Linked DNA regions of Homo sapiens. The protein of the gene in region 2 interacts with the protein of the main gene of each other region in a pairwise test. Each region holds a gene or a part of one and is shown on either strand. Other genes may lie near its edges.

Evidence for each region.
Region 1: the proteins of RRM2B (region 2) and RRM1 interact in a two-hybrid assay, tested with the Homo sapiens proteins (one study listed by BioGRID).

The regions. Positions count from the first base shown.
Region 1 is NC_000011.10:4,118,347-4,126,387, forward strand, and holds part of RRM1 (ribonucleoside-diphosphate reductase large subunit), read left to right. Parts: coding exon 1-115; intron 116-1,498; coding exon 1,499-1,582; exon of another isoform or gene 1,583-1,624; intron 1,625-3,257; coding exon 3,258-3,419; intron 3,420-3,794; coding exon 3,795-3,874; intron 3,875-4,836; coding exon 4,837-5,038; intron 5,039-8,041. UniProt on the Homo sapiens protein: Provides the precursors necessary for DNA synthesis. Catalyzes the biosynthesis of deoxyribonucleotides from the corresponding ribonucleotides.
Region 2 is NC_000008.11:102,228,435-102,236,475, forward strand, and holds part of RRM2B (ribonucleoside-diphosphate reductase subunit M2 B), read right to left. Parts: intron 3,871-8,041; coding exon 3,715-3,870; intron 1-3,714.

The DNA.
Region 1 (8,041 bases), on a different chromosome or scaffold from region 2:
CAGCATTGAAGGCATTTATGACACTCTAAAGCAATGTGCATTGATTTCTAAGTCTGCTGGAGGAATTGGTGTTGCTGTGAGTTGTATTCGGGCTACTGGCAGCTACATTGCTGGGGTAGGTTTCTGCCATTTGACTTTTAAAGGGGGATTCAAGTCTAAAAGCAAACAGATTCATGGTTGAGAGGGCATATGCTATTTTTTGGGAGTCCTGGGTCTCTGTTAAATTACTAAATGGCTATGTGACTTGGAGTGAGTCATTTTACTTCTGGCTTCATTTTCATCTATGATATTAGATATTTAGATTTGACTAGATAATCTCTAGAATCCTTTTTAGCTCAGGTTTTAGAATTCTGGCTTATTTTAGCAGTAATAAGAGCAGTTATCATTGATTGATTGCTTACTGTATGTTAAGTTTGTTATAAATGTTTTACATGAGGTACTCATTTGACCCTTACTACAACGCTATGAGGTAACTATGATTATAGACTCATGCCAGGAATTTTATTCCTTAAAATAACCTTGTGAATAAAGGTACCATTGTCTAATTTTACAAGTGAGGAAATTGAGACTTAGAAAGTTGTTACTTTCTGAGATCAATCACTTAATATGTGGTAGAGCCAGGATTCAAGATTTATGCATTGACACTTTATGATGTAAACTTTAGCCCTTTGTTAGTTTACTGTTCAATGGGAGTCAAGATAATAGTTTTGGATTTAAATCCTAGCTCCACTACTTAACTAGTAATGTGGCCTAGAGTTAGTTATTTTGTGTCTGAGTTTGTTTCCTTTTCTGTAAGGTGAAGAAAATATCTAACTCTGTAGAATAAAGTTCCAGAAGGAAATTATTCCATTATGTTGTGTTTTGGAGGTGCTGTGATATATACAGCACTTTACACAGTGGTAGAGTGAGCTATTGCTCACTTATCTTTCTAGACTGTTTAAAGGCTTGTGTTGGGATCAGAAGGGTTAAAGAATTTGATGAAGTATCTTCTAGTCGTAGGAGTCTCTATTTTCTTAACATCATTCTAGAGTCCACTTATTGCTGAGAATCTCCTTTTACCTTATTTATTGCCCTGATATAGCTATCGCATATAATTCTTATTGTAAATTGCCTTGATTTCTTTTGGGAAAAAGGCATTGTAGTAGTGTTTATATTCTTTTTTACTCTACCCAAAGTGTATCTTTATATAACGACCTTTAGAAGATGTAGAGTTTAAATTTAGCTACCTTGATTTTGGATCCCTTTGGCCTGTAATTGTTACATCTCATTATAAATTAGAAATGCCATGAGGTAACTTAGTACATAATTGTAATTTATTCAACATTTTGTTGATTTTATTTGGGCATTTTTCCAAAGCAGAAGTAGAGATGGAGAGCAGGTAAAACTTCATAGATTGCTACCTAGAAATTAGGCATCTTTTTTGATAAAAGAATGGGGCCATTTTTTTCTTTTCTTTGCTGAGTGCCCTCTGTCATTTCTATCATGGTCTCTCTTTTAGACTAATGGCAATTCCAATGGCCTTGTACCGATGCTGAGAGTATATAACAACACAGCTCGATATGTGGATCAAGGTGGGAACAAGGTATGCTCCATGAATTGAAAGTACTGGAAATCAGAACTAAAGGTGATTTAGTCATATACACTTAAGATGGTTCATTTATGTGTAGTTTCTAATTACCTTTTTTTTACTTGTAAAATCAATTTGAGGAGGTATAATTATTTTAATATGCATATACTTTAAATGTACAGTTTGATGGGTTTTGACAAATGTATACACTTGTGTAATCACCACATTGATAAAGAGGTAGAACATTTCCATTACCCCAAAATCTTTTCTCCCTCATATACCTTTACATTCAGTCACCCCTGTCACCCCTACCCACACATACTTTATCCCTGGCTCTAGACAGCCACTGATCTATTCAGCTTTCTTACATGATAGTTCGTTTGCAAAGAATTTCTCAAGTTGTAATTCATATAAATTTGTTACTTGAAATGGGGTTGTAACATGTGCTCTAGGTTTTTCTTTCGTTTTTTTTTTTATCTCTCTCTTATCACCCAGGCTGGAGTGCAATGGTGCGATCTTGGCTCACCGTAGCCTTGACCTCCTGGACTTAAGTGATTCTTCTGCCTCAGCCCTCCCATGTAGCTCAGACTATAGGCCTGTGCCACCACACCCAGCTAATTTTTATATTTTTTGTAGAGGCGGGGGTCTCACTTTCTTGCCTAGGCTGATCTCAAACTCCTAGGCTCAAGCAATCTACCTGCCTTGGCCTCCCAAAGTGTTGGGATTATGGGTGTTAGCCACTGCACCTCGCCTAGGTTGTTCTTAAAACAAAAACAAAAACTACCTGGAATAACAAAACTCTCCCTAATTGGCTGGATGCAGTGGCTCCTGCCAGTAATCCCAGCACTTTGGGAGGCTGAGGTGGGCTGATCGTGTAAGCTCACAAGTTCAAGACCACGAGTTCAAGCTCACGAGTTCAACATGACGCAACCCCATCTCCACAAAAAATACAAAAATTAACCGGGTGTGGTGGCGAACGCCTGTAGTTTCAGCTTCTCTGGAGGCTGAGGTGGGAGGATGGCTTGAGCCCGGTAGGCAGGAGGTTGCAGTGAGCCGAGATTATACCACTGCACTCCAGCCTGGGCGGTAGAGCTAGAACTTGTCTCAAACAAAACAGAACAAACAAACAAAAACTCTCCCTAATTGATAGAAGAAACAGTAAAGTTGAGAGAATTGGGTTGTTTACCTTATTTTATCAACAGGATGGTTTACAACTAGAGTCTGCCTTTTGTGACTGTAGGCACACTAATCGCTTGTTGGTTTATGAATTTCTCTCTGATGGACTTTGGGGACCTTGATAAGACAGATCAACTTTTTGACCTACAATAAGAGCATGGCTTATACTGTCAAAGCAACTTCCTTTGGGCTTTATGTACATGTCATGTGGTGTAAAGAGAGCTGGGCTGTTGCTGAAGAGGAGGCTCCATCTGTAGTTCATCATGTCACTTTAGAAAAGTTAATCTTGTTTCACATTTTGTTTATATCATTCGTTCGTTTTTACTCATAGAATTGTAAAATATTACTTTTACAATTATATATGGAAAACTTACACTTTTATAATACTTTTATTTATGTTATTTAATTCATTGTAGTGAAAATCAAAGGAGATACTATAAAAGTGCTTTGGGAGACATGATGTTTCTTTGTTTCATTTTTATTCTGAAGAGAATTATGATTTATTTACCACTAGCGTCCTGGGGCATTTGCTATTTACCTGGAGCCTTGGCATTTAGACATCTTTGAATTCCTTGATTTAAAGAAGAACACAGGAAAGGAAGAGCAGCGTGCCAGAGATCTTTTCTTTGCTCTTTGGATTCCGGATCTCTTCATGAAACGAGTGGAGACTAATCAGGTGAGAGATAGGTACTTGTTGGTAATAGCAACTTGATTCACATGAGCTTTCTCTTTTTTAGTCATCTTAAGTCATGCTTAGGAAGAGCCCATATGTGTGTGATGCCACAGAAGGCATTCTGAACAAGTTAAGAGATGCCGTGCTTGTCTTCTTATATTTCTATTCTCTAAAGTAGATGCTTTGTGACCTAAATGCTTAAAAGGTCATGTATAAACAGGCAGACCTAGATGTTTGGGCCTGAACCTGAAAATGATTATTTCTACAGCAAATTTCCAAGAGAGCTTGTAAAAGTCACCTTATGCTTGCAGTGTTTCTAATGGATTATGGTTGGCTATTTGAAGTTTCTTATGAGTGATTTTGTCCTTTCCTTTTTAGGACTGGTCTTTGATGTGTCCAAATGAGTGTCCTGGTCTGGATGAGGTTTGGGGAGAGGAATTTGAGAAACTATATGCAAGGTATGGGAAAAATATGAAAGAAAACAATAATGTTTTAATCATGGTTTCTCTTATTTCAGGGGTCCAAATATCAAAAGTACTTGTCAAGAATCTTTTGAAGCATCTAAGAGAAAAAGTGACTAATAATTTTGGTCAGATTTGCTTCCTGACTCTTCACCAAAATTGAGTTGTGTCTTCTTCTTTCTTAAAACTTTGGAATGTATAAATAGGTTCTTGGGATTTTTAATTGATCCTTTTAAAATTTAAGATGACTAGTAGGGTTATTATTTTGCTCTGTCATATAGTACTTTTGATAAGCTATGCTTTATGTTGCATAAAGGAATCATGAGTGACTAGGACACATATGTCAGTAGTTTATTAAAATTAAATAGGTCAGGTGCAGTGGCTCACATCTGTAGTCTCAGCACTTTGGGAAGATGAGGCAGGTGGATCATTTGAGGTCAGGAGTTCAAGACCAGCCTGGCCAACATGGTGAAACCCTGTCTCTAGTAAAAATACAAAAATTAGCTGGGCGTGGTGGTGCACACCTGTAGTCCCAGCTACTTGGGAGGCTGAGGTAGGAGAATTGCTTGAACCTGGGAGGTGGAGGTTGCAGTGAGCTGAGATTGTGCCACTGCACTCCAGCCTGGGTGATAGAACGAAACTCCGTCTCAAAAAAAAAAAAAGGAAAAAAATTTAGCACAGTCTTAAGAGATTTGGCTTCCTTAGTTTTTACTCCTTTTTATTATGAAAGATATTATTGGTTTAGTGGGATTGCGATCATCTGAAGGCACCTAAAACTGCCTCATTTTCCCCTATGGCTTTAGCTAGAGTAAAATAAATATCATATTCCTTTTTTTCTTTAGCAAAACTTAGAGAAAATTTAAGAGTTTTCATAACTTTATATTTTAATGTCTTCAAGTTGTCTACAATAAAGTTTTTTTAGGGAATATATATTAAATAATATTATCTGTGCCTTTCAGTTATGAGAAACAAGGTCGTGTCCGCAAAGTTGTAAAAGCTCAGCAGCTTTGGTATGCCATCATTGAGTCTCAGACGGAAACAGGCACCCCGTATATGCTCTACAAAGATTCCTGTAATCGAAAGAGCAACCAGCAGAACCTGGGAACCATCAAATGCAGCAACCTGTGCACAGAAATAGTGGAGTACACCAGCAAAGATGAGGTAGGTAGAAAAAATTCTTCCTAGAGTACTAAGAAGAGAACCTTAGGCAGTTATTATTTGTGAATTCCTCACTTGATTTCACTTGAGATAAGTGAAGGGAGTTTGCATAGTTGTAAGCAGAAGAACACTGTTAAAGGCAGAGAGCAAAGGAAGGAAAGGGTATGATCTGTGCCTATAAATGTTTTTTAGTCTAAGCCGTGTGGGAAAGACACAGTTTTTTCTTATACACACATCACTGTAATAACATTTACTCAAGAAAAATAGAAATATACAGTTATGTTAGTTTAGGACACACACAAAAATGTGTTAGGATGTACATTCAATTTAAACTATGTAAGCCTTGAGCCTGGAAAGTGGAGGCTGCAGTGGGCTGAGATTGTGCCACTGTACTCCATCCTGGGCGACAAAGTGAGACCCTGTCTCAAAACAAACAAACAAAAAACCAAAAACAACAACAACAAAAGTATGTAAGCTTATAAAGAGAGTCCTTTCAGTGAATGGTGAGATCAAATTCTAATCTCAAGTCTGTAAAGAGACTTCACAGAAGAATCAAGGCTAGAAATGGGACATGGATTTGGTGTTTTAAAAAAAAGTTTGAGAGAGGAGCTTTCCATTTGGAAAGAGTGGTCTGTATGATACACCAGAGACAGGGCTGGGTTTTATGCAGTGTGGCAAGTAAGTCTGTTTTGATGGTGCAAGTAGATTAATTATTGGAATATGGAGAGATGGCTATGGCTGGGGGAAGGGAGATAGAAGGTAGAAGCTGACACGTCACGGATAGGTAGCCCTTGTAGGTTTCTGAGAGGAAAATAGCATCAAAATGTTAAGATGAAAAGGAAGGTTCTTGCTTCTGGTTACAGAGTGTCTTGCTGTGAGAAGGGATTAGAGGTTAGCCTAGGGAGATTGTTGTACTAGTTGGATGACAGGCTGCTTTGATCTTGGATGTAAACTATGGAAACGAGGAAGGAGTAGATCCTCAATTCTAGGACCTTAAAAAAAAAGACAAATGAAAAGTCAGGAAGTAAATGGAAAGTGAGTTAAATATACTGCTAAGGTTACAGTTTAATTCAAAATTTATTGTGCAGTAGCTATATGTAAAACACAATGTTAAGTGCTCTGAGAATATAAATAAATATGCTGCCCTCTGGAAACTTCTAATTTAGTTGGAAGACATCGACATATATTGAGGTAACTATTATGCAAGACAGATTATATTATAGAGGCTAGAGTGACATTTTTAAAATAAAAATCAGATAATGTCATTTGTCTGCACAAAACTACTCTTTGGCTTGCTAACCCATGCAGAATTCCTTTTTTTTCGGGGGGCGTCAAGATTTCACTCTGTTGCCCAAGCTGGGCTGTGGCTCACTGCAACCTCAACAGAGTTCTTTCTTTTTGCAAATTGAGCTATAATTCACTCTTTTTAAAATGTACAATTCAGTGTTTTTTTTCTTTTCTTTTCTTTTCTTTTTTTTAGTATATCTGCAAGTCTGTGCAACCATTACCACTATCTAATTGTAGTATTTATTTATTTTATTTTTTTTTTTTTGAGACAGAGTCTTGCTCTGTCACCAGGCTGGAGTGTAGTGGCTCGATCTCGGCTCACTGCAACCTCCGCCTCCTGGATTCAAGCGATTCTCCTGCCTCAGCCTCCCGAGTAGCTGGGACTACAGGCGCGTGCCACCACACCCAGCTAATTTTTGTATTTTTAGTAGGGACGAGGTTTCACTATGTTGGCCAGGATGGTCTCAATCTCTTGACCTCGTGATCCGCCCACCTCAGCCTCCCAAAGTGTTGGGATTACAGGCGTGAGCCACCGTGACCGGCCTGTAGTACATTTTTATCACTGTAGATAATGAAACCCTTTATCCATTAGCAGTCACTCCCTGTTCCCTTCTTCCCTCAGCCCTTGACAACCACTAATATATTTTCTGTCTCTAGATTTGTGGACATTGTGGACATTCCATAGGAATGGAGTCATATAATATGTGGCCTTTTGTGTCAGGCTTCTTTCACTTAACATGTTCTTTTATTCATGTTGTAGCATGTATCAGTACTTCATTCCTTTCCATCCAGAGTTCTTACAGTGCCCTACAAGGTCCTACACAACTGGATAACCCACCTCATCTGCGGTTACTTTCCCCTTTGTTCACTTTGCTCCAACCCTATTAATTTTCTTGCTTTTTCTCAAACATGTCAACCATGCTCCTACCTCAGGATTTTTGCTCCTTCTTCCCTCTTGAATGTTAAAATGCACCCCCTCTTCCCATAGCCACATGATTTGCTTTCTAACCTGTTCAGTTCTTTGTTCATATGTAACATTTTCAATGAGGTCCTTCTTGACAATTCTGTTTAAAAATTATACCCCCTTCATCTTTATCCCCAGTACTCTCTGTCTTCTTTTCCTGCCTATTTTTCTTCCTGGCATTTATTAGACTTCTGTGATTCAAGCTATATTTAAAAAAATGGGTATTTGGCAACATGTGTAGAATGGAGTAGATGTGAAGGGCATCAAGAGTTCAACTGGGAAACTTTCAGTAGTCCATGTGAGAGAAGTTAAGACTTTGGCTTGGGATAGTCATAATCAAAATGGAAAAGAAAGTGTATTCATTCAACATTATCAAGACTTACTGTGTGCCAGATGTGTTGCTAGTGCTAAACATATAAATATAAATAAGATGATCCTTGTGTGAAGAAGCTCACTGCCTCGTGTAGTGGAGAAATCACTGGAAGAGCTTTTTCAGAAATCACAAATTGAGATCCATTGTTGCTAAGGGCTTGTCAGAATATCAGTGAAGGTGAGGTGGACGTGTGTGTTTTGAAGAACTCTGCAGTGATGGAAATGTTCTGTATCTGATGGCTATTGAGCACTTGAAATATGACTAGTGCAACTGAGAAACTCAAATTTTATTTCATTTTAAATAGATATATGTAGCCAGTGGCTACCATATTGCAGGGCACTCATCTACTGAATAATGAGATAGGTATATGTAAAAAGCTAAT
Region 2 (8,041 bases):
GTGGGTGCCACAGGTGTGGATGCTAAAAGCTGTCACACTGACCCTCTGCCCTCACTGGTGGAGACCAACTGCCCCATGTGAAAAGGCAGAGGGCCCACTGAGCCGTTAAAACTTAAGCCATCTGCGGACAGCAAAAGCTAAAAGAGAGTTAACTATAACACATTCCTTCTGGGGCTTCAAGGGTTGTGGGTACTCCTCACAGATGCTGCCATGAGGCCTGCATGGAGTTTTGCTCCTGCCGGTGCCCAAAAGAATTCACCCAAGCTCCTGCACCTGCTCACCTGCATGCTCCCTCCCTCAAGGGGCTGAGCGCAATGGGTTCAAGTGAGTGGAGTTTGCCCCTGCCAGCGCCAAAGCAGCCAGCTAGCTCCAGCATGCGCATTCCAGTTCCCACCCACGAAGGGATCGGAGAAACTATCCTGCTTCAATTTTGTCAGAAAAAATCTTTTAAATATTTTTCATAATTAACTTCATGAACAGTTGAAATATGTAATTGTCTTTGTCTTTTGCCTTTCTTTTATTTACTCTAACAAACCCTCGGCTGGGCACGGTAGCTCACGCCTGTAATCCCAGCACTTTGGGAGGCCAAGGTGAGTGGATCATGAGGTCAAGAGATTGAGACCAACCTGGTCAACATAGTGAAACCCTGTCTCTACTAAAAATACAAAATTAGCTAGGCATGGTGGCGCATGCCTGTAGTCCCAGCTACTTGGGAGGCTGAGGCAGGAGAATCGCTTGAACCCAGGAGGAGGAGGTTGCAGTGAGCCAAGATCGTGCCATTGCACTCCAGCCTGGCAACAGAGTGCAACTCTGTCTCAAAAACAAAACAACAACAACAACAAAAAAAAAAAAACCCACAAAGCCTCAAGCCTCAATCTCTTTGACCTTTCCAAAAAGGACTAATGTCCCAATCTTTTAATCACATGCTATTTTCCAAATCCTTTTTCCCACTAATTTATTCTTTAAGTGTTTGCTGAGCACTTACTGCACACCTGACACCGTGCTAAGCACTGGGGATACAACGGAGCAGGGTGGAGGAAATATTTGTCTTCATCTTTTAAAATATGCAACCTAAAAATCAAGTTCTGTTCTATTAAAAGCTCAACTCAGGTTTAACTGAAGGACATCTTCTTCATTCATATATATTATAACCCCTCAGGTTTTTTTTCGGAGACAGTCTCACTCTGTTGCCCAGGCTGGAATACAGTGGCATGATCTGGGCTCACTGCAGCCTCTGCTACCTGGGCTCAAGCGATTCTCCTGCCTCAACCTCCTGAGTAGCTGGGATTACAGGCACCTGCTGCCACGCCTGGCTAATTTTTGTATTTTTACTAGAGACAGGGTTTTACCATGTTGTCCAGGTTGGTCTCAAACTCCTGACCTCAAGTGATCTGCCCACTTTAGCCTCCCAAAGTGCTTGGATTACAGGTGTGAGCCACCATGCTCGACCTCTTATATATTATATATTTGATATTAAATGTTAATATTGTAAGATGCTTCCTCTTAAATATTAAAATTATTTCTTTGAACACTCAGTTTCAAAGGTCTTCTAAATTTTATTTACACTACATTGGAAATATTCCCTTCCTGCCTAGCTTTTTCTTATTTGAGCAAATTCTCAATTTCATCATTTAAATACTGATTCCAAACTAGACAATTATCATAACTGCCTGAGTGGCTTTAAAGAAAAAAGTCCCAAACCCCAGACTTTTGTCTTTTGATCAGGGTTTCTGTTGATCAGCCATATTTAAGAATTAAGCTCAACCATTTAAGCTGACTAAATGGTAACTTACATAATTTGTAAATGAAAAATATGTGGAACTAAAAATGTGTTTGATTTATCTTCAAAATATGTATTTGAATCGTCCTATAATTAGCTACAGAACACGTACCAACCTGTAGATTTCAGTTTTTAAAAATTAGTGTTGCTTTGTTACAGGTCACATATTACCTTTGCTAAAAGATGCAAGTTAATTTCCAAATGAATTTCAAGAATCCTAAGAATCCTAAGTACCTTTTTAACATAATGAACGAAAAAGCCACCTGCGTATTCCACTCGTTCTCTGAACCGTATCTAACAAAAAACCTTTCTAAAAACCACAGACAGTTAGGGACAGTCAGGTGTGTCAAGCATTATGACCACGTATGAAAATATTGGGTGTTTGTTTTTGTGTGGTTTGGTTTTTTGCTCTATATGTCAACTATAATATAACAAAGATGTTGACAATATAACACTACAATATAACAAAGATGGGTAAGTGGGTAAAATTAGTGTAATAGAAGCTTCAAACACTGGTGCCTTCTGATTTCTAGGTTAAATTTTCCCCCTTCTGTGCATAAAATAATAGTTTACATTTATTTAGTGCCTACTAAGTGTCAACTACCATTTTAAATATCTCATAAATCCTCATAACAACACAAATAGCCAAGTACAATTAGCCTAATTTACTGATGAGGATACACAGAGAGGTTATGTAACTTTCCCAGTTCCATAGCTAGTAAGTAGTGGCACAGGATTTGTACCTAGGCAGTCTGACCCCATAGCCTGCATTCTTAACAGCATGTGTTTAACATTTATAGAATTAATGTCTTGAAAAATAGATTCAAATCTATCTATCCAAATAGATACATCTATCTATAGAGATACATATACAAACATATACAGAACAAGAGTGCTGTATAGGTATCACCCATTATATTTAAAGATCAAGACAATAACTATTTGTTCAGTTAGACTACAGGGCAATCATTTTCATGACCACTGTCCTTACCAACCAGCAAATATTTTCTAGTTTGCTGTGTTCAACTGATCTCCCAGGTGGAATTAACAAAAAGCTTTCTACAGCTGATCTATTAGTGGCAACTCTGTCACGTTTGATGTAGCTGAGGGCAGGGCCAAACTGGGAGCAGCACTGTGAGTTCCACCTGGCTGACTCGGGAGTGAGTCCACAGCCTAGAGGATCAAACTCTTCATGCAGCGGCTCATTTTGTACAATCAGATAAATCTCTCAATTGAAAGCAGAGTTGCTACAGCTTTCACTCATTTTTTGACTACAGCTGCAATTTTACTTATTCTGCTGACCTTGTAAGACTAGTCAGACAAGTCTTACTTGGCCATATCAAACTAAAAGTCTGTTTAAAAATAGAAAATGTTGGCTGGGCGTGGTGGCTCATGCCTGTAATCCCAGCACTTTGGGAGGCTGAGGCAGGTGGATCACAAGGTCAGGAGTTTGAGACCAGCCTGGCCAATGTGGTGAAACCCCATCTCTACTAAAAATACAAAAATTAGCTGGGCGTGGTGGCTGGCGCCTGTAATCCCAACTACTCAGGAAGCTGAGGCAGGAGAATCGCTTGAACCCGGGAGGTGGAGTTTGCAGTGAGCTGAGATCGCGCCACTGCACTCTAGCCTGGGTGACAGAGTGAGACTCTGTCTCAAAAAAAAAAAAAAAAAAGAAAAAGAAAAAAAATGTTCTAATATATTGGAAATAAAAATCTGGCAGAATTAGATGCCATTGTTGCAGCAGAAAACTTGTTTATAGATAGTAATCTAAACTAAAACATTGAGAACATCATATTTAGTCTCAGTAATTCCAACACTTATCTTCTACAACTGATCTTCTTCAATGTATAAGTTAAAGTTATTCAATATCCTGTAAAACAAGAAGGAACACTGCACTATAGGATGTGAATGCTCTTGGAGGCAATGCCACGTACCTCTTCTGCTGTCCAGAAGGAAGCCTGTGCCTGTTTATACATTTTCCAAATATCAGGGTACTGGATTGGAAAGATGACAAACCGGCGAGAACTCTTTCTTAGGAGTGGCTCTTCATTTGACTTTATTTCACTTTCGTTGGTGTCTGAAGATGATCTCTTTGAAAAATAAAGTACAAACACGCCTTTTATATAGACATTTCTTCTTTATTCATACCTAAACATACATCTAAGGAAGTCAGGGAGACGGCATTGGTTTGAGAGCCTGTCTGCCTGGGTTGAATCCTTACTGTTACCTGGTAGCTGACTAATACTGTTAGGAAGTGCGTGTGTGACCATAGAAAGCTGCTTAACTTCTCTAACCCTCAGTCTCCTCAGCTGTAAAATAATTCCTACCTCATAGGTTTATTCTGATGATTAAAAGTGCTTTAAACAAAGCCTGGTATATAGTAAGCACTCAAAAATTATTGTAATTATTGCTAGTTTGAGGATAAGTACAAAGCTAGACCCATAAATGTCATCATGATGGGCAAATTTCTAAGTTTGTGAACAAAATGTCCCTTTAGAGCCTCTCTGATAAGATTGCTGGAATGAATAAGCTACTGGTATAAGCTACTTTAATGTTTTTTCTTTCTACTCTTCACTGAAATAATATAATACTTATCTGAAAACTCATTACCTACAACTTAACCTTTGTTCATCTTAGCCTTCTGATACTCCAATTTGTTACTGCTATTTACATTCTAACATTACTGCATATGATCTCACTGTGGGCTGTCTCAAAGCTTTGTGAATAAAGTGAGAAACACATACCTGTATTCACACTGCTTCAAAACACGATGGCACTCTAAGAGCAAATGGTGCCATGCATATATTTTTAAAATAGCGGGAACATCAGAAGAGAATCAGAAGAGTCGCACATGTGTGAGAATGAGTATAAACAAAGGACATACAAATAAGCTAAACGTGTATAAACCAGGATTAGAACACATACAACTTCTAGACTCCTATCCAAAACTGTCTCTCTCTCTACTGTGACAGGCCCGTTATGTTCCTTACTCCAGCGTCCACCCATTGTCACCTCGCCAAAGCAACTGTTATAGCAGAGGAGGCTAAGGCTTAGCAAGAAGAAAGCCCAAAATACAAGCATACGGCTATGCAAATACAGGGGGGCTTGCGTGCTTTATACCTACTGCCATCACAGTACAGATGGTCTTGATTTTAACTACTTGTTTAAAGGTATGGGCCTCCTCAGATACAGCACTTGAGCCCTGGAGAAGAGGAACCAATTTTTATTTGTTGTGATGTTCCCAGAGCTTAGTATCGTGTCAAGCATGTTAGCTAAGTAAATGGGCTGCTAATTTCTCTTCTTCCTGTACTCAGATTTCTAGGTACCTTTAGAAAATTTTAATTTAACATAGGACCACAATACATCAGTGAGACAACCCAATAACCATTAAAATCAATCACATTTTCCCCTCTTCACATCACCCCAAAGGTCTGGGTTAGGTTCCAGATATAAGTACATAGCTCACTGCAATTTAATTCCCTGTTAATTGTCTCTAATTTCCTGTGCTTCTTGAAAGTAAAATCCATTTTCACCCTTGTAGAATCCCTTGTGCTTAGCACAGTACCTGGCACTTAGTTGGTACTCATTCCACAAATATTTGAGCAATTTTTTTTTAAGACTGGGTCTTGCTCCGTCACCCAGGCTAGAGTGCATAGATCAGAGTAGTGTGATCATAGATCACTGCAGTCTCAAACTCCTGTGCTCAAGCAATCCTCCTGTCTCAGCCTCCCAAGTAGCTAGGACTATGTGCACACGTCACCACACCTGGATAATTTTTAAATTTTTTGTAGAGATGGGGGTCATGCTATGTTGCCCCGGCTGGTCTCAAACTCCTGGCCTTTGTTATTTTTATTACTGAAATTTGGGATATACTCAAAGTATGAAAGTTGGGAACTTCTATACTTTTGTTACTGGAAGTTGGGAAGGACATCACAAGCAGTCACTCTTCAGCACCAAATGCCCTGACGATGAATGAAGTTTTTAAATGATGATAAATAACTGATCTGCTGAAGACTAGTACCTTTAAGTTAGAATGAAAGTCACATTTGTATACACATTCTCCTGTTCTATCCTGATAACCTGTAGACTATTAAGAGGAGTAGCTGGATTAGGAGTGTATTATGAGGGATTTTGCAATGTGAAGAGAAGGAGGTTAACCAACATCAACCTTTGAGCTGGGCTAGAGATGACGTATTATTTCATAATGCTTAGAAACGTGCACAAACATACATTTGAATACAATTTCAGAAAGTTCATGCATCTTGAAACTCTAGGCTCTCCACAGTACCCTCTGTGGACCTAATCTAAGAACCCATATTTTAGAAGAAAAAAAAAATGTGAAAAAAGATATGATGGGCAGGGCGCGGTGGCTCACGCCTGTAATCCCAGCACTTTGGGAGGCCGAGGCGGGCGGATCATAAGGTCAAGAGATCGAGACCATCCTGGCCAACATGGTGAAACCCTGTCACTACTAAAAATACAAAAATTAGCTGGGTGTGGTGGCGCGTACCTGTAGTCCCAGCTACTCGGGAGGCTGAGGCAGGAGAATCACTTGAACCCAGAAGGCAGAGATTGCAGTGAGCTGAGATCACGCCACTGCACTCAGGCCTGGTGACAGAGCAAGACTCCATCTCAAAAAACAAAACAAAACAAAAAGAAATATATGGGTGCATGAGAGAGCAGCCTACTAGACATAGAAATTTCAAAGCTCATGGGTATCTATATTTTTACAGGGTTAATAAAAGAGCAAAATTGGTTAGTAGTAATCTGATTTTTAAAAAATTTTGGAGGTTAAAGTGGTCTGCTTTGATATAAAACACTTTGGCATCTAATAACTCTAAGATGTATGCTATTGGGAGCCACTGAAGGTTTTTAATAAGGCAAATAACATAATCAGATATATCTTTTAAGATCGCTTTTCTAGAAACATTGCTAGATTAGAAGAGAAATTAGAGGCAGAAAGAACAATGAAAAGATTATTGTACTACCCATCTCTTGCCTGAACTAGAAACACACACAAAAATTGATTTAAGTGATATTCAGAAGTAGAATGAATTATTCTTCCTAAAAATTTGAATTTGGGACAAGGGGCAAGAACAGTTAAAGATGCCCTTGATGTTTCCAGCTCCAGTAACTGGGTGATAACAAGATCTAAAAGGCACACACAAGGTGCTCAGTACCTGGAGAATAAATAAATAAATCAGACAAAAATTTTGCTTCTCACATTAGATGTTTAACGGAAGTTTAATTTAACTCCTCCCACCAAGCCAGGCGACAACAACAAAGTTACAAACACAATATCCTCACAAAGTCAACTAGGTCATTAGAAGAGATAATGAATTCAGGCCCGGCGTGGTGCCTCACGCCTGTAATCCCAGCACTTTCGGAGGCCGAGGCGGGCGGATCACAAGGTCAAGAGATTGAGACCATCCTGGCCAACATGGTGAAACCCCGTCTCTACTAAAAATACAAAAATTAGCCGGGCGTGGTGGCGTACGCCTGTACTCCCAACTACTCGGGAGGCTGAGGCAGGAGAATCACTTGAACCCAAGAGGCAGAGGTTGCAGTGAGCCGAGATTGTGCCACTGTATGTACTCCAGCCTGGTGACAGAGTGAGACTCCGTCTCAAAAAAAAAAGAATAGAAAAGATAATGAATTCAGTTTCAAGATGTCCAGTAAGCAGTTAAAAATATAACACTGCAGAACACGAGTGATGGAGATCCCATTAGTGGTTGCCAAGGGAATGGATGTGATTATCCAGAGAGAACATATAGAGCAGCAAGACAACTGAGGATACAGTCTTAGAGAATGCTGATATTTAAAGGGCAGATGAAAGAAGAGAAGCCAGCTGAGATTAAAACAGGCTGAAATGGATGCAGGACAAGGAAAAGCAAAAGTAGGAATGATGTGATTTGGCTAAAGCAAAGGATCTAGACTCTTAAGATAAATCAGACTAAGAGGTTAGGAATCAATTTTGTGGCCAAAGATCTTCAAACATCGGAGGTCTAGAAGGCTCATACTCCAATTCTCCCCATTTGCCCCCAACCCCAGGTGCTGGCGTTCATAGCAGGGTACAGTTTGAAAATCTGTACCCCACAGATTTGGGGGTACAAATAGTCATGGAGAGTTTCTGAATGGGAATTAACATGAATAGAGGTGGCATTAGGAAGACTAATCAGAAAACCACGTATAGGATTAATTGATAAAAAACTAGATTTTGCAAGCAACTAAGGAACCAATTTCAAAGATGGAAATGAGGAC